2 separate regions of the Homo sapiens genome follow, and region 1 is linked to region 2. The links come from fine-mapping of genetic effects on gene expression. A gene starts in region 2. The other region holds a variant in brackets. All regions are shown on one strand. Distances are from middle to middle. Region 1 overlaps TYK2 (tyrosine kinase 2). Region 2 holds the start of ICAM1 (intercellular adhesion molecule 1).

Region 1 (8,000 bases), 87 kb before region 2:
CTGGCTCCTCAGGAGGCTGAGGTGGGAGAATCTCTTGAGCCTGGGAGGTCCAGGCTGAAGTGAGCCAAGATTGCACCGCTGCACTCCAGCCTGGGCAACAGAGCAAGACCCTGTCTCAAAAAAAAAAAAAAAAAAAAGAGAGATCAGGTAGCCGGGCACAGTGGCTCATGCCTGTAATCCCAGCACTTTGGGAGGCTGAGGCTGGCAGATCAGCTGAGGTCAGGAATTTGAGACCAGGCTGGCTAACATGGTGAAACCCCCTCTGTACTAAAAATATAAAAATTAGCTGGGCATGGTGGCAGGGACCTGTAATCCCAGCTACTCGGGAGGTTGAGGTGTTGAGGCAAGAGAATTGCTTGAACCCAGGTGGGCAGAGGTTGCAATAAGCTGAGATCACGCCATTGCATTCCAGCCTGGGTGACGAGGGAAAATCCGTCTAAAAAATACAAACAAATAAACAAAAAAGCAGGTGTGTGCCTGCTGCTGCATTGTGTCTCCATGTAAGTGGCTGTGTGTCCAGAGTTAGTGTCCCCACAAGAGTGGCTGTGTCTGACACTTGTCCTAGCTGTGTGTGTGCCCTCTAAGTAGGTAATGAGTGTCATTGTTCCCGGGTATGGGTCCAGAGTGGCCCCAGGTGGCCTGATAGTCCCCCTGGACCACCTTCCAGGGAGCCATTTGTGCAGGCCAAGCTGCGGCCCGAGGACGGCCTGTACCTCATTCACTGGAGCACCAGCCACCCCTACCGCCTGATCCTCACAGTGGCCCAGCGTAGCCAGGTGAGCCCAGGGCTGGGGGCTGGGGCTGGGGCTGGACACGTTCCCTGCCTGGTCCCCTGCTTACTGCTCCCACCTCTGCCACCTCCTGCCAGGCACCAGACGGCATGCAGAGCTTGCGGCTCCGAAAGTTCCCCATTGAGCAGCAGGACGGGGCCTTCGTGCTGGAGGGCTGGGGCCGGTCCTTCCCCAGCGTTCGGGAACTTGGGGCTGCCTTGCAGGGCTGCTTGCTGAGGGCCGGGGATGACTGCTTCTCTCTGCGTCGCTGTTGCCTGCCCCAACCAGGAGGTACGATGATAGGGGGACCTCTGGGTGGGATGTGGCATCTCTCCCCCAGGCCCGCCCTCCATGACTTGATGCCTGCCCCCAGAAACCTCCAATCTCATCATCATGCGGGGGGCTCGGGCCAGCCCCAGGACACTCAACCTCAGCCAGCTCAGCTTCCACCGGGTTGACCAGAAGGAGATCACCCAGGTGGGTGCAGGGAAGGGGCCCGGGGCAAGGGCAGGGCCCCTGGGGATGTGGGTGCTGGGGGCCCTGGGAGATCAGCTGCTAACTTTCACCATGGCGGTATTCTGTGCCACATGATCCCGCAGCTGTCCCACTTGGGCCAGGGCACAAGGACCAACGTGTATGAGGGCCGCCTGCGAGTGGAGGGCAGCGGGGACCCTGAGGAGGGCAAGATGGATGACGAGGACCCCCTCGTGCCTGGCAGGGACCGTGGGCAGGAGCTACGAGTGGTGCTCAAAGTGCTGGACCCTAGTCACCATGACATCGCCCTGGTGAGTGGGCAGGGCCAGGCCTGGGGGTGTGTCTGTGGAGGAGGTGGCCGGAGGAGGTGGGATGGGAGGGGTGTGTCTGTGGAGGAGGTGGGATGGGAGGGGTGTGTCCGTGGAGGAGGTGGGATGGGAGGGGTCGGCTTTGCAGCCACCTGACCTGCCCGGTCCCCACAGGCCTTCTACGAGACAGCCAGCCTCATGAGCCAGGTCTCCCACACGCACCTGGCCTTCGTGCATGGCGTCTGTGTGCGCGGCCCTGAAAGTGAGTGGGTCCCGCCATACCCATCCCCCTTTGGCAGGCCACCCCTGACTTATACCCACTCCCTGATCTGTACCCCAACCCTCGACCTACACCCCAACCTATGCCTATTTCTCAACTCTCACCTGTACTCTGATCCCGGGCTACACCTTGACCTTCAACCTAGACCCCAACCCCTAACGATATTCCAGCCCATAACTTACATCCCAACACGTCGACCCTCACCTGCCCTCAGTCTCAACCCCCACCCTGATTCCCAACTACATCCCCACTTCCATCAACCTCCCAAACAACCTCTACAGTCCAGCCCCCATCTGCTCCTGGCCCCATCAGCACTATGGCCTCAGGCAGACTCCAGTGCTGATGTGTGCTGATTCTCCTAGGCCTCAGCCCCTGCACATCCAACCCTGCCTAACCCCACCTCTTCCTTTCCTCTGCAGGTAGCTCAAAACTCCTTGTATAGGCTAGGTGTGGTGGCTCACACCTATCCCAGCACTTTGGGAGGCAGAGGTGGGAGGATCGCTTAAACCCAGGAGTTCAAGACCAGCCTGGGTAACATGTCCAGACCCTATCTTTACAAAAAATTTAAAAATCAGGGCCAGGCATGGTGACCTATGCCTGTAGTCCTAGCTACTTGTGAGGCTGGAATGGAAGGATCACTTGAGCCCAGGAGTTCAAGGCTGCAGTGAGCCATGATTGTACCACTGCACTCCAGCCTGGGCGACAGGGCGAGACTCTGTCTCAAAAAATATAATAAATAAATAAAAAATAAAGCCCTTGTACAGAACAACCCTAGACCCACCCATCCCTCAACCCCCCTGTGTGTGTGTGTGTGTGCATCTCCCCCACTTTCCCCTGGACCCTGGCCGACACCCTGACCCACATCCCTCTGACTACTCTGGTACCCAAACATCTCCTACACCCCAACCTCAAGCCCCTAGCCTCTGCTTATCCATGCCCATCCCCCCCATCCCTAGTTGCTTACTTTGTAGGCTCACCTTTATCTCTTTTTTTGTGAGACTAGGGTCTCCCTCTGTTGCCCCGGCTGCAATGCAGTGGTGCCATCATGGCTCACTGAAGCCTCGACCTCCCGGGCTCAAGCGATCCTTCCGCCTCAGCCTCTTGAGCACCTGGGATGACAGGCGTGTGCTATCACACCCGGCTGATTTTTAAAAATTTTTTGTAGAGATGGGGTCTCACTATGTTGCTTAGGCTGATCTCAAACTCCTGGGCTCAAGGGATCTTCCTGCCTCAGCCTCCCAAAGTGACAGGATTGCAGGCATGAGCCACTGTACCCTGCCACCTTTATCTCTTTTTTTTTTTAATTTTTTTGAGACGGAGTCTCACTGTGTCACCCAGGCTGGAATACAGTGGCGTGATCTCGGCTCACTGCAACCTCCGCCTCCCGGGTTCAAGCAATTCTCCTGCCTCAGCCTCCCGAATAGCTGGGATTACAGGCATGTGCCACCATGCCCAGCTAATTTTTTTTTTTTTCTTCTTTTTGAGATGGAGTCTTGCTCTATCGCCCAGGCTGGAGTGCAATGACGTGATCTCGGCTCACTGCAAGCTCCGTCTCCCACCATTCTTCTGCCTCAGCCTCCCAAGTAGCTGGGACTACCGGCGCCCACCACCATGCCTGGCTAATTTTTTTGTCTTTTTAGTAGAGATGGGGTTTCACTGTAATTTTTTTGTATTTTTAGTAGAGTTGGGGTTTCACCATATTGACCAGGCTGGTCTCGAACTCCTGAACTTGTGATCCGCCCGCCTCAGCCTCCCAAAGTGCTGGGATTACAGGCGTGAGCCACCGCGCCCGGCTGTATTTTTTTTTTTAGTAGTGATGGAGTTTCATCATGTTGGGCAGGCTGCCCTTGAACTCCTGACCTCAGGTGATCCACCTGCCTCAGCCTCCCAAAGTGCTGGGATTACAGGCGTGAGCCACTACGCCCAGCCCACCTTTCTCTCTTGAACTTCAACTTCTTCCGTGCCCCATCCCACTTGGACCCCAATGCCCTCATCCACCGCTGCCTCTGCTGCATTCCGCATTTCTTCTCTCCCCAAACTCACTTTCAACCCAGACCAAACTCCACCCACACCTCTGCCCTGACACCTCCCCAGCCACATGCCAAGTCCCTCCCTGGCGTCTCCCCCAATTCCCCGCCATCCAGAGGGCAGAAGCAGGCAGGTTGCCCCAGAGCAGCTGTGTCTTTACAGATA[T/G]CATGGTGACAGAGTACGTGGAGCACGGACCCCTGGATGTGTGGCTGCGGAGGGAGCGGGGCCATGTGCCCATGGCTTGGAAGATGGTGGTGGCCCAGCAGCTGGCCAGCGCCCTCAGCTACCTGGTGTGTGGCCTGTGTGTGGGGCCTGGGTCGGTCAGGGAGGGCCAGGAGCCCAGGAGTTCGAGACCAGCCTGGGCAACAGGGCGAGACCCCATCTTTTTTGTTTGTTTTGTTTTAGGTGGAGTTTCGCCCTGTCACCCAGGCTGGAGTGCAATGGCATGATCTCGGCTCACTGCAACCTTCGCCTCCCGGGTTCAAATGATTCTCCCGCCTCAGCCTCCCAAGTAGCTGGGATTATAGGCTCCTGCCATCACGCCCAGCTAATTTTTGTATTTTTAGTAGAGATGGGGTTTCACCATGTTGGTCAGGCTGGTCTCGAACTTCTGACCTCGTGATCCATCCGCCTCAGCCTCCCAAAGTGCTGGGATTCCAGGCGTGAGCCACCACGCCCAGCTGGCCCCATCTTTTAAAAATAAACAAATAGCCAGGTGTGGTGGCTCATACCTGTAATCCCAGCAGTTTGGGAGGCCAAGGCGGGTGGATCACCTGAGGTCAGGAGTTTGAGACCAGCCTGGCCAGTATGGCAAAACCTTGCCTCTACTAAAAATACAAAAAAAATTAGCCAATGTGGTAACTTGCACCTGTAGGCCGAGGTACTCAGGAAGTTGAGGTGGGAGGATCACCTGAGCTCAGGAATTTGAGGCCGTAGTAAGCTATGATCACACCACTGCACCCCAGCCTGGGCAGCAGCATAGCTAGACCCCATCTCCACCAAAAATTTAAGAATCAGCTAGGCTGTGGTGATGTGCACCTGTAATTCTCGCTACTTGGAAGGCTTGAGCCCAGGAGTTTGAAGCTGCAGTGAGCTATGTTCGTGCCACTATACTCCAACCTGAGAGACAGAGTGAGACCCTGTCTTAAAAAAAAAAAAAAAAAAAAAAAACAAGAAAAAAATAACCCCCCAAAAAACAAAACAGAAAGAAACCCAGTGATAGTCACAGTTGTCCTTTTCACATTGGCTGTCCCTATGGGGACCAGGTTTGGGGTTGGCGTCTGTGCCTCTCCTGAGTGGCCACACCCCCTCTCCTGCCCACCTCAGGAGAACAAGAACCTGGTTCATGGTAATGTGTGTGGCCGGAACATCCTGCTGGCCCGGCTGGGGTTGGCAGAGGGCACCAGCCCCTTCATCAAGCTGAGTGATCCTGGCGTGGGCCTGGGCGCCCTCTCCAGGGAGGGTGAGTACCTGAGGGGACCTGGGCACAGTGGGGGGCTTCCCCTGCTCCTTTCACCCTTGGTGACCTCTGACCTTGGCCTCCCAGAGCGGGTGGAGAGGATCCCCTGGCTGGCCCCCGAATGCCTACCAGGTGGGGCCAACAGCCTAAGCACCGCCATGGACAAGTGGGGGTTTGGCGCCACCCTCCTGGAGATCTGCTTTGACGGAGAGGCCCCTCTGCAGAGCCGCAGTCCCTCCGAGGTATGTCTAGGAGACCCTTGGGCCCTCCCCGCAGTGGGGGCCCCTCCAAGAAATCCAGAGGACAGAATCAGAGCTCAAAGCTGCATCCCTTCTGGCCTCGTGACTTCAAGTCTCTCTGGGCTACCAGCAGGTGGGCCACTCGCTGGGGCTCAATGTAGTCCCAGCCTTTTTAGGTCCTTGTGGAAGTCACTTGTGCCTGGCACACAGAAGGCAAGTAAGAGACTTGATTTCAGTTTTAGGCAGAGTGACCAGGGCAGCGATGGGAGACGCCCAGGCTGCAGAGTGGGGAAGAAGGGCTGAGGATGCGCCTCACCCAGCAGTGGGGTCAGACAAGGCTTCCCAAAGGAGGTTCATGAGTGTGGTGGTTTTATTTTGAGACGAAGTTCCACTCTAATTGCCCAGGCTGGAATGCAATGGCGTGATCTCAGCTCACTGCAACCTCTGCCTCCTGGGTTCAAGCGATTCTCCTGTCTCAGCCTCCCGAGTAGGGGGGATTACAGGCACATGCCACCACACCCGGCTAATTTTTGTATTTTTTGTAGAGATGGGGTTTCATTATATTGGTCAGGCTGGTCTCAAACTCCTGACCTCAGGTGATCCGCCCACCTCGGCCTCCCAAAGTGCTGGGATTACAGGCATGAGCCACAGTGCCCGGCCCCAGAAGAGGTTTTATCTAAGTGTAGAATTATGCCAACAAGCCTGGCTAGGAAGGGCAGCCTAGGCAGAGTGCATGGCCTGTGCAAAGGCTGAGGCTTCAGTGTATTAAGGAGCTGTGGTCTACAGGAGGGGCAGGAGGGAAGCTTGGGGCAGGAGGCTGACTGTGACACTCCAGCTCTGCATAATCACTGGACCTGGGTCCCAGTCCTGGTTCTACGGCTGTGAGCACGTCCTCCCACTTTGTGGAGCCTCAGTTGCCTCATCTGTATAATGGAACTGATAAGAGCGGGCACCTGGCGGTCCACTCTGGGGACTTGACTCTGCCTCTTGGGGAACGGGTTGGGGGCGAGGGGAGGATGTTGACTCCTCTGGGTCCCTTTCCCAACAGAAGGAGCATTTCTACCAGAGGCAGCACCGGCTGCCCGAGCCCTCCTGCCCACAGCTGGCCACACTCACCAGCCAGTGTCTGACCTATGAGCCAACCCAGAGGCCATCATTCCGCACCATCCTGCGTGACCTCACCCGGCTGCAGCCCCACAGTGAGCTCCATCCCAGTGCTGGGACCCTGGGGAAGTGGGACGGGGCTGGGATCCCTGCTGTATGCCTATAGCGCACGAGAGGTCTCTGCACAGTGGTTCAGGGTGTGTGCCAATTTCTTGCAGTGGCATTCATAAGCATGCCCTGCCTGGCTGCCCTGAGCTCTCATTAATGTATTTATTTATTTATTTGCAATGGAATCTTGCTCTGTCACCCAGCCTGGAGCGCAGTGACGTGATCTTGGCTCACTGCAACCTCCACCTCCCAGGTTCAAGCAATCCTCCCACCTCAGCCTCCCAAGTAGCTGGGATTACAAGCGTGTGCCACCATGCCCGGCTAATTTTTGTATTTTTAGTAGAGGTGGGGTTTTGCCATGTTGGCCAGGCTGGTCTCAAACTCTAGACCTCAAATGATCTATCTGCTTCAGCCTCCCAAATTGCTGGGATTACAGGCGTGAGCCACTGCGCCTGGCCTCCTTAATGTTTTGTCTGGGGAGAGACACAACTTCTTTGGATTAGAGAATTAGACCACTGCAGTTTTTTTTTTCTTTTTAAAAAAGTTTTGTATTGTTCTCTTTAAAAAATTAATATGCTCTTTTTTCTTTTTTTTGAGACGGAGTCTCACTCTGTTGCCAGGCTGGAGTGCAGTGGTGCAATCTTGGCTCACTGCAACCTCCGTCTCCCAGGTTCAAGTAATTGTCCTGCCTCAGCCTCCTGGGTAGCTGGGACTACAGGCGCCCACCACCACGCCGGGCTAATTTTTGTATTTTTAGTAGAGACGGGAATTCACCATGTTGGCCAGGATGGTCTCAGTCTCTTGACCTCGTGATCCACCCGCCTCGGCCTCCCAAAGTGCTGGGATTACAGGCATGAGCCACTGCGCCTGACCTATTTTCTTTTTTTTTTTCTTTCTTTCTTTTTTTTTTTTTTGAGATGGAGTTTTGCTCTTGTTGCACAGGCTGGAGTGCAATGGCACGATCTCGGCCCACTGCAACCTCCGCCTCCTGGGTTCGAGCAATTCTCCTGCCTCAGCCTCCCGAGTAGCTGGGATTACAGGCGTCCACCACCACACCCAGCTAATTTTTGTATTTTTAGTAGAGACGGGGTTTCACTGTGTTGGCTAGGCTGGTCTCAAACTCCTGACCTCAGGTGATCCACCCTCCTCAGCCTCCCAAAGTGTTGGGATTACAGGCGTGAGCCACCACGCCCGGCCTAATATGCCATTTTCAACTGGTCATATCACATT
Region 2 (10,613 bases):
GGTGAAGGTTGCGGTGAGCTGAGATCGTGCCATTGCACTCCAGCCTGGGCAACAAGAGTGAAACTCTGTCTCAAAAAAAGGAAAAAACAAAAAGAATTCTCCACACCCAAGCCCTCTCCCACAGCCTCCCAGCCTCTCTTCTCATAGCCAGCTAATATTGTCATTTCTCCCACTTCCTTTTAGGGCTATTTTATACATAAATACAGCCTCCCCGAAACTGCCCTTCCCTAATGTGAGGGTGGCATACCACTCATATTCAACATACCTTCTTTTATTTCTTTTTTTTTTTTTTTTGAGATGGAGTTTTGCTCTTGTTGCCCAAGCTGGAGTGCAGTGGCGCAATCTCAGCTCACCGCAACCTCTGCCTCCCAGTTTCAAGAGATTCTCCTGCCTCAGCCTCCCGAGTAGCTGGGATTACAGGTATGTGCCACTATGCCTGGCTAGTTTTTTTTGTATTTTTAATAGAGACGGGGTTTCTCCATGGTGGTCAGGCTGGTCTCGAACTCCTGACCTCAAGTGATCCGCCTCCCTCAGCCTCCCAAAGTGCTGGGATTACAGGCGTGAGCCACCGTGCCCAGCCCATGACATTTTGAGAACTGATGCCCAATTTCCCGCCACAGGGTTGGGCTTATTTATGCTCCCAACAGCACTGTCCTAGGACCTCCTACGTTCCAATAGCCTTGGCAGCACAGCTGTTATCAATTCTTTTTTTTTTTTTTTTTTTTGAGATGGAGTCTTGCTCTGTCGCCCAGGCTGGAGTGCAGTGGCACGATCTTGGCTCACTGCAAGCTCTGCCTCCCGGGTTCATGCCATTCTCCTGCCTCAGCCTCCTGAGTAGCTGGGACCACAGGCGCCTGCCACCATGCCCGGCTAATTTTTTGTAGTTTTAGTAGAGACGGGGTTTCACCATGTTAGCCAGGATGGTCTCGATCTCCTGACCTTGTGATCCGCCCGCCTCGGCCTCCCAAAGTGCTGGGATTACAGGCGTGAGCCACTGCGCCCGGCCATCAATTCTTTTGTTTGTTACCAATATGTGAAAAATGCCATCCCAGGGCTAGTTTTAACTCATATCTTTTTTTTTTTTTTTAAATAAAAATGGGGTTTTGCTATGTTGCCTAGGATGGATTCGAACTCCTAGGATTCGAACCCCTGGGTTAAAGCAATCCTCCCATCACAGCCTCAGGAGCAGCTGGGATTACAGGTGCACACCACGATGCCCAGCTAAATTATTTACTTTTTTTTTCCGGTAGAAACAGGGTCTTGGATGGGCACAGTGGCTTACACCTGTAATCCCAGCACTTTGGGAGGCCGAGGCGGGCGGACCACTAGGTCAGGAGATTGAGACCATCCTGGCTAACACAGTGAAACCCCGTCTCTACTAAAAATACAAAAAAATGAGCCGGGCATGGTGGCAGGCGCCTGTAGTCCCAGCTACTCGGGAGGCTGAGGCAGGAGAATGGCGTGAACCCGGGAGGCGGAGCTTGCAGTGAGCCGAGATCACACCACTGCACTCCAGCCTGGGCGACAGAGTGAGACTCCGTCTCAAAAAAAAAAAAAAAAAAAAGAAAGAAACAGGGTCTCACTCTGTTGCCCAGGCTGGTCTCAAACTCCTGGGCTCAAACCATCCTTCTGCCTCAGCCTCTGGAGTAGTTGGGATTATAGGTACAAGCCACCACACTTGGCTTAATTTGCATCTTTTATTAAAGTGTCTGAAGCAGGACCGTGTCATATGTTCAAAGAGTGAGGCATAGAGAGATGGCATTTTTTTTTTCTTGAGATGGAATCTTGCTCTGTTATCCAGACTGGAGTGCACTGGCACGATCGCGGCTCACTGCAATCTCTGCCTCTCAGGTTCAAGCGTTCTCCTGCCTCAGCCTTCCAAGTAGCTGGGATTACAGGCGCTTGACACCATGCCCGGCTGATTTTTGTATTTTCAGCAGAGACAGGGTTTCGCCATGTTGGCGAAACTTAAACTCCTGATCTCAGGTGATCCGCCAGCCTCAGCCTCTCAAAGTGCTGGGATTACAGGCATGAGCCACCGCACCCAGCCTGTAAATACTTTAATTGTACCCAAAGAAATTCACAAAGGGACTTTCCAAGGATGTCCCCACCTGCCCTGCAAGGAGCCCCTCCTTGACCCTACGAGCAAGTGGCAAAGATTCCCCCAGGCCTCTGCAGGTGCCCCTGCACGTCTCTCCCACCGGGTCTGCCTAGTCCAGCCCTCCGGGCTCAGTTACTCACAGTACACGGTGAGGAAGGTTTTAGCTGTTGACTGCCCATCAGGGCAGTTTGAATAGCACATTGGTTGGCTATCTTCTTGCACATTGCTCAGTTCATACACCTTCCGGTTGTTCCCAGGCAGGAGCAACTCCTTTTTAGGCAACGGGGTCTCTATGCCCAACAACTTGGGCTGGTCACAGGAGGTGCTGCATGTCACCAGCACGGAGCCTCCCCGGGGCAGGATGACTTTTGAGGGGGACACAGATGTCTGGGCATTGCCAGGTCCTAGAAGAAACGAGGGAAGAGGCGACAGGCATTACAAATCAGGTTCATCAAGGGAATGTGCGCCCAGCCTGTGCTGGGTGCTGGAGGCACAGCCTTAACAAGACAATACTTTGCCTTCGATGTGGAAGTTAAAGAGAAAATTCATGAGCAGGCCGGGTGTGGTGGCTCACGCCTGTAATCCCAGCACTTTGGGAGGCCAAGGCGGGCAGATCACTTGAGGTCAGGAATTTGAGATCAGCCTGGCCAACATGACAAAGCCCCGTCTCCACTAAAAATACAAAAATTAGCTGGGCATGGTGGGACGTGCCTGTAGTCCTAGCTATTTGGGAGGCTGAGGCACAAGAATCACTTGAACCTGGGAGGTGGAGGTTACAGTGAGCCAAGATTGTGCCACTGCACTCCAGCCTGAGCAACAGAACGAGACTCTGTCTCCAAAAAAAAAAAAAAAAAAATTATGAGCAAACAAGATAATTAATAACTGATGTTAATATGAGCTTTGACAAAAACAAAACAGGGTGATAGAATAGACAGTGCTTTGGTGACAGGGTAATGTTTCAGCAGAGATCTAAATGACGAGAAAGGGCTGGCTGTCCGGAGAAAAGGGAAATAAGTTCCAGGCAAGTACAGATGTCCCGGGGCAGGGTGGCTGGAGCTGAGTGAGCAAGGATGAAGAGGGGGAGATTAATTCAGGAAGATCCCGTGAGCACTGAAGGCCATGCTAAAGATGTGTTCTTTTATTTTTTTTTTTTTTGAGATGGAGTCTCGCTTTGTCACTCAGACTGGAGTGCAGTGGCGCAATCTCAGCTCACTGCAACCTTTGCCTCCCGGGTTCAAGTGATTCTCCTGCCTCAGCCTCCAGAGTATCTGGGATTACAGGCAAGCACCACCACGCCCAGCTAATTTTTGTATTTTTAATAGAGACGGGGTTTCGCCACGTCGGCCAGCCTGCTCTCAAACTCCTGGCCTCAAGTGATCCGCCCGCCTCAGCCTCCCAAAGTGCTGGGATTACAGGCGTGAACCACCACGCCCAGCCACATGTGTTCTTTATACTGAGGGCAATAGGGAGCCATGGAAGGACTTTAGCCATCACTTTTTTTTTTTTAAACGGGTCTCCCTCTGTTACCCAGGCTGGAATACAGTGGCACAATCATAGCTCACTGTAACCTTGAACTCCTGGGCTCAAGTGATCCTCCCATCTCAGCCTCCCAAGTAGCTGGGACTACAGGACACCACCATACCCGGCTAATATTTGAAAAACATTTTTTTTTTTTTGAGACGGAGTTTAGCTCTTGTTGCCCAGGCTGGAGTGCAATGGCACGATCTCAGTTCACCGCAACCTCCGCCTCCCAGGTTCAAGCGATTCTCCTGCCTCAGCCTCCCGAGTAGCTGGGATTACAGGCATGCGCCACCACGCCCGGGTAATTTTGTACTTTTAGTAGAGACGGGGTTTCTCCATGTTGGTCAGGCTGGTCTCAAACTCCTGACCTCAGGTAATCCGCCCGCCTCAGCCTCCCAAAGTGCTGGGATTATAGGTGTGAGCCACCGCGCCTGGCCCTGAAAAACATTTTTGTAGAGATGGGGTCTCACTATGTTGCTAAGGCTGGTCTCAAACTCCTGGCCTCAAGTGATCCTCCCGCCTAAGCCTCCCAAAATGCCAGGATTACAGGTGTGAGCCACTGTGTCCAACCAGATTTTAATGTGAAGTTGGTGCCCTCCTCCCTCCTAAGAAGTCAGGTGGAGACAGTCAGCCCTCCAGGAATCAGACTGGCTCCTCACTCCCTGAGACACGTAGTTTCCCCCTCTTTGGGCCTCAATTTCCCCATCTGTAAGGTGGGTGAGTATAGCCACCCCATCCCTTGCTAATACAAGTAACTCAGCACAGGATGGGTAGCAACTGGCTACCTTGCAGGTAAGAAAGAAGGGGCTTACGGGGTGGGCACTGTGGCTCACGCATGTAATCCCAGCACTTTGGGAGGCAGGGTGGGCAGATCATGAGGTCAGGAAATCGAGACCATCCTGGCTAACACAGTGATTAGCCGGGTGTGATGGCACATGCCTGTAGTCCCAGCTACTCAGGGAGGCTGAGGCAGGAGAATCGTTTGAACCTGGGAGGCAGAGGTTGCAGTGAGCCGAGATCACGCCACTGCACTCCAGCCTGGGCGACAGAGTGAGACTCCGTCTCAAAAAAAAAAAAAAAAAAAAAAGAAAAGAAAAGAAAGAAAGAAGGGGCTTATTTGGATCAGGTCCCTCAGATTCTGCTGCCTCCGAAGGTGGGAAAAAATGTCTGAGCCCAGCACTGCCTCACTCAAAGATTCCTGTCTCAGATTTGTTCTATCTTGGATGGGGGTGTGAGGACACTGGCTCCATACATTCTCCAAGGGAGATTCTGGGACCATTCCCATTTCATAGAGAGAAATGGTTACTCAGCTAGAAAGCAGTGCGATCTGGGTCTGAGTCCGGATCAGAACGCTTTGTTTTTTGAGACAGAATCTCGCTATGTCTCCCAGGCTGGAGTGCAGTGGCACAATCTTGGTTCACTGCAACCTCAGCCTCGTGGGCTTAAGGGATTTTCCTCCCTCAGCCTCCCGAGCAGCTGGGATCACAGGCGCCCACCACCATGCCAGCTAATTTTTGTATTTTTAGTAGAGACGGGATGTTGCCATGTTGGCCAGGCTGGTCTCAAACTCCTGACCTTAAGTGATTCGCCCGCCTGGGGCTCCTAAAGTGTTGGGATTACTGGCATGAACTACCGTGCTGGCCTGGATCTCAGGCTTTGTTGAGCTGTTAACCAAGCTGTCAATCTCCCACCCTCCTGGTTCCCCAAACTTACACCACCATGAAAGACCCTCTGACCCCTTCCCTCTTCCCTAGCTGGGCTGGAGCTGGGGGAGGGTGTGCTGGGGCGTCCCACTTCTCAGCTTTGGGCCACGGATAAGTCAGCTCTGGAATTCCCCCAAGTAGAAGCAGCCCTGGACTTCCCCAGGGGCAGAGAGGATGAGGAACAGAATATACATCTTGAGGGGGGTGGGGGTCCCTTAAGCCTTGTTGGGTTGGCACAGAGCCAAGTTCCCAAACCATCATGATCGAGTCCTGGGGCCAGGTGCTGCGCTGGGCCAAGATACCCTGCCAGGTGGCCGCTATAACGTTTCCCGTTTTACAGCTGAGAAACTGTAAGAGACGCAATCTAGCCAAGCAAGGCGGTGGTTCACACCTCTCATCCCAGCTACTCGGGAGGCTGAGGCAGGAGGTAAGGCTAGACCCCCGGAGTTCAAGACCGGCCTGGGCAACAAAACGAGGCCCGCCCCTCCCCTCCATCTCCAACCCCCTACCCTTTTTTAAAGCTGCAATCTATAGCCCAAGGCCACACGTGGAGGTATGCAGGGTCTGGATTCGAACCTACTGGCTGTTGCCTTTCAATCGCTGTCTCTAGCCCCTCCTTCCCATAAACAGCTACCTAAGCATGCATGACCTGACCCGGGAGCCGGTCCTCCCGGGGCTTCGGAGAACTGGCCCGACGGCAATCCCCACCCCGACTCACCTGGGAACAGAGCCCCGAGCAGGACCAGGAGTGCGGGCAGCGCGGGCCGGGGGCTGCTGGGAGCCATAGCGAGGCTGAGGTTGCAACTCTGAGTAGCAGAGGAGCTCAGCGTCGACTGGGGCGCGTGATCCTTTATAGCGCTAGCCACCTGGGGGCCAAGGGGCGGTGCTGCTTTCCCGGAAACCTCGCGCCTTCCCCTCCGGAACAAATGCTGCAGTTATTTCCGGACTGACAGGGTGCCCGGGCCGAGAGGGTCATCCTCCCTCGCTGGCCGCTTCAGCTCCGGAATTTCCAAGCTAAAGCAATCGGGCGGCGGTGGCAGGGCGATGACCCCGGGGGCTGCTCCCGGCCTCCACGCCTCCCGTTTCCCGGCCAGGCTAAGCTTGAATCACGGTCTACACCGCGCTAAGCGGTTTATTAAGTACTTTTAAATACTGCCAACTTCCCCGGAGAGTGGAGACTGTTATTGTGTCCATTTCACAAAGCGGTAAACTGAGACTCCAGGCTGCGAGGGGGTCCGAACTCAAGTCCTCCCTCTCCAGCTTACGCAGGCCTCTTTAATCGAGTGGATGAGCCCCCTGCCTGGGTGGGGGCCCAGGAATCCTCCCCGGGCTCCCTCCACTGAGGGATGCCCCTCCCCCTAGGTCACGTCCACACCTAGCTGACACGGGCATTTCTCGAGAAGCGGCCAGAGCAGAGCCAGGCACCTCCCGGCGACCGCTAACCGTGGGAGTGACGAAGCGCGGTCTCACCACGTCCGGGGAAATCGGCGTCCTCTCTCTACACCCGAGGGCACTCACCCCGGCGGCCTCCTCGCTTCCCCTTTCGGCCTTGGCCGCGGAGGCGTCTTTACAGCTCCCAGAAAAAGGAAGGAAGCTGCGTGATCCCTACGCGCCGAGCCCCTCCGCTGGCGTCCCAGGCTCCGCGGGGAAACTGAGGCAGCTAGCTTGGATCTTGACGAGGGAGGGGAGGGGGACGCTCGAAATCCCTGCCTGTCGCTGGGAAACTGAGGCAGCAGCCCCCAGGCGCAGAGGCGAGGCAGGGAGAAGGGGCGCTCGAACCCCTGCCCTACGCGCGAGGCTCCGGCAACTCGAACCCAGGCTCATGCACTAAATATGAGCGGGTGTTTGCTTGGCCACCGCCTGTGCGTGTGACCCCAAGACTCGACATCCACCACGTCGAGGCTGGGTACTCTTAAGTCTCCGAGCACCAAGCCGCGCCGCCTAAGGCTTTCCTGTTGTGGGGCGCGCGCGGCGTCGCCATGGAGATCTCCGAGGGGCCAGGGAGGTCGCGCAGCAGAAGGGGAAGCGAAGGGTCCCCGGACGCGCAGGCCCTTCCTATCGGGGAAGGGGGCTGCGAGTCACTGGCCATCCAGAGACGCATATTTCCCCCGCCTCGGTCATTCCCAAGGAATTTCCACGGGGATATTTTTTTCTTGGGGGGCTGAGGAGTTCTGAATTCCCGCCCCGGAACGGCCTGAGCAAAGTCACAGGGTGGGACGGGGGACGCCCCTGGTCCTCAGAAGGCCTGGGAAAATCCTGCGCCACGGGTTCTTCCTCGGGCGGGTTCCACTGAGCTCTTGCCCCGGCCCGAGGTGCGCGAGCTCCCCCGCGCGGCCCAAGTCCCACTTGCAGCCACAATGGTGCCGTTCTTTTCTCAACATGTGGCTCAATGTTTTTTAAGCGCCTACTGTGTGCTTGGCGTCCTTCCAGGTACTGGGGACACAGGAATGAACAGAGTCAGACAAAAATCCACCTGGGCGCGGCTCCCACCTGTAATCCCAGCATTTTGGGAGGCCGAGATGGGAGGATCACTTGAGCCCAGGAGTTCAAGACCAGCCTGGGCAACATAGGGAGACCCCCATCTCTATGCAAAATACAAAAATTAGCCGGGTGTGGTGGTGCACACCTGTAATTCCACCTACTTGGGAGGCTGATGCAGGAGAATCTCTTGAACCCGGCAGGCGGAGGTTGCAGTGAGCCAAGATAGAGGCACTGCACTCCAGCCTGGGTGAGAGTGAGACTCAAAAAAAAAAAAAAAAAAAAAAAAAAAGGAACAGCCAGGAGAACAGTGTGGCTGGAGCAGGCTTAGCAAAGGAGAGATTCGAGGAGAGGAGCGGGCAGGGAGATGACAGGGCAGATAGGTGCAAGTTCCTGTCACCTGAGGAGGACTTTGTTGTTTTGTTTGTTTGTTTCTGAACCCCAGTCTCGTTCTGTCACCCAGGCTGGAGCACAGTGGTGTGATCTCGGCTCACTGCAAACTCTGCCTCCCAGGTTCAAGCGATTCTCCCACCTCAGCCTACCGAGTAGCTGGTACTACAGGGGTGCGTCACCACGCCTAGCTAATTTTTGTATTTTTAGTAGAGATGGGGTTTCACCATGTTGGTCTCTAACTCCTGACCTCTAGTGATCCGCCCCCCTTGGCCTCCCAAAGTGCTGGGATAACAGATGTGAGCCACCGTGCCTGGCCAGGACTTTGGCTTTTATGCCCAGCGAGGTGGGAGGTATAGAGGGTTCTGAGCAGAGGAAGGACCTTGCCCTAACTCAAGTGTTCACAGGGGCCCAGTTGAGGCTTCAAGAGCTGCAGCCAGGAGATGGGAGAGGAGGTGACTGTTCTAGTCCAGATGAATGATAGTGGGGCCTGGACTGGGCAGTGTCCTTGGAGAAAGGGCTGAATTTGACATCCGTTTTGGAGGCTGGGCCAACTGGAGGTGCTGGGACAAGGGGGATGACTCCTTGATCAGGGTCCGAGCCTTTTGGAGGATGGCGGGTCACTTTCTGAGATGGGAGTGGGATGGCTATGGTAGGGGGCAGGCTGGCAGAGAGAGACGGCACCTCCCAGTCCTCCGTTCCCTTAAGCGTTTTTCAAGGAAAAGGGAAGCAGATATTTCCTAGACCTTTGTTTCTGTCTCCAGGAAGGGCAGGGCTTCCTCCCGGTTGCCAGACAGTCAGGCAGGCCAAAGAATGGCCTCAGACCAGAGGCTGCCCACCAAGGGCAGAAGCCATCCCATAGTGTCCCATGCAAACGCCTTGCAGTTCCCTCAGCCTGGAATGCTCTTCCCTTCAACCCCAACAAGGCTGGCTCCTCCTGTCTTGTGGCCTGAGCTTTCTCCTAAATGAGTGTCCCCCCTACTCCATCCTGGGCCACATCCTGGGCGTTCCTTGTCACTCGCCTTAATATTCGAATTCCTTAACTCATTACTTGCTGAATTTCTTTTTTAATTTTTTGAGACAGAGTTTCACTCTGTCACCCTGGCTAGAGTGCAGTGGCACGATCTCAGCTCACTGCAACCCCTGCCTCCCAGGTTTAAGTGATTCTCCTGCCTCAGCCTCCCGAGTAGCTGGGATTACAGACATACGCCACCAGACCCGGCTAATTTTTGTGTTTTTAGTAGAGACGGGGTTACACCATGTTGGCCAGCCTGGTCTCAAACTCCTGACCTCAAGTGATCCACCTGCCTTGGCCTCCCAAAGGGCTGGGATTATAGGCATGAGCCACTGCTCCCGGCCTATTTAGTTTTTTTTTTTTTTTTTTTTTTGAGACAAAGTCTCGCTCTGTTGTCCAGGCTGGAGTACAGAGGTGTGATCTCGGCTCACTGCAACCTCCGTTTCCTAGGTTCAAGAAATTCTTCTGCCTTAGCCTCCCAAATAGCTGGGATTACAGGCACCCACCAACACCCCTGGCTAACTTTTGTATTTTTTTTTTTTTTCAAGATGGAGTCTCACTCTGTGGCCCAGGCTGGAGTGCAGTGGTGCGATCTCGGCTCACTGCAACCTCCACCTCCCAGGTTCAAGTGATTCTCCTGCCTCAGCCTCCCAAATAGCTGGGACTACAGGTGCGTGTCACCACGCACAGCTAATTTTTTGTATTTTTAGTAGAGACAGGGTTTCACCGTGTTAGCCAGGATGGTCTCGATCTTCTTACCTCATTATCTGCCTGCCTCACCCTCCCAAAGTGCTGGGATTACAGGCGTGAGCAAACGCACCCGGCCAACTTTTGTATTTTTATTTTACTTTTCATTTTATTTATGTAAATTTTTGTGAGGTCGTCTCACTCCGTCGCCCAGGCTGGAGTGCAGTGGTGCAATCTCGGCTCACTGCAACCTCTACTTCCCAGGTTCAAGCGATTCTCTTGCCTCAGCCTCCCAGGTAGCTGAGACTACAGGTACCCACCACCACATCTAGCTAATTTTTGTATTTTTAGTAGAGATGAGGTTTTACCATGTTGGCCTGGCAGGTCTAGAACTCCTGACCTCAGGTGATCCGCCCGCCTTGGCCTCCAAAAGGCGTGAGCCACTGTGCCCGGCAGAGCTTATCTTTGATTACAGATTTCTTCTGGGGAATAGCTTAGTTTGTGGTTTTGTTTTTCAAAACTCTGCTTCAGCAAAGATGTGGGGAAAAAAAAAGGGCTATGGAAACTCTTCTGATTCCAGTTTTGGTGATGGAAGACAGCCACCAGGAAACCCTGCCGAAAGAATGGGTCAGATCAATAATCTGAGCGGTCCCAGTCCTCCTCCAATGGCTGATGGATGAGGAAGGTAAATATCAGTTCTAAGAAGCAGACAACTGGA

What was found. PIP is the estimated chance that this variant, and not a neighbour inherited with it, causes the effect. A credible set is the group of variants that fine-mapping cannot tell apart.
Region 1: its variant is the best candidate, but not a certain one, in a credible set for the expression of ICAM1 in whole blood (INTERVAL, PIP 0.76).

The regions. Positions count from the first base shown.
Region 1 is chr19:10,355,325-10,363,324 of GRCh38, reverse strand. It overlaps TYK2 (tyrosine kinase 2), which reads left to right. Exons shown (of 25, transcript NM_003331.5): 10 at 668-776; 11 at 869-1,061; 12 at 1,144-1,247; 13 at 1,370-1,555; 14 at 1,727-1,814; 15 at 4,023-4,150; 16 at 5,187-5,322; 17 at 5,407-5,561; 18 at 6,607-6,757. Among named protein-coding and RNA genes, the nearest start is that of ICAM3, 20 kb to the right of the region's middle. The variant T/G (reference allele first, on the strand shown) is at 4,026.
Region 2 is chr19:10,266,657-10,277,269 of GRCh38, reverse strand. ICAM1 (intercellular adhesion molecule 1) reads right to left here and starts at 6,150. Exons shown (of 7, transcript NM_000201.3): 1 at 6,044-6,150; 2 at 2,242-2,505. The coding sequence starts at 6,110. LIMASI (lncRNA inflammatory and mucous response associated, antisense to ICAM1) reads left to right here. Exons shown (of 4, transcript XR_007067138.1): 2 at 10,476-10,580. RefSeq lists enhancers at 5,349-5,588, 6,499-6,588 and a silencer at 8,943-9,237.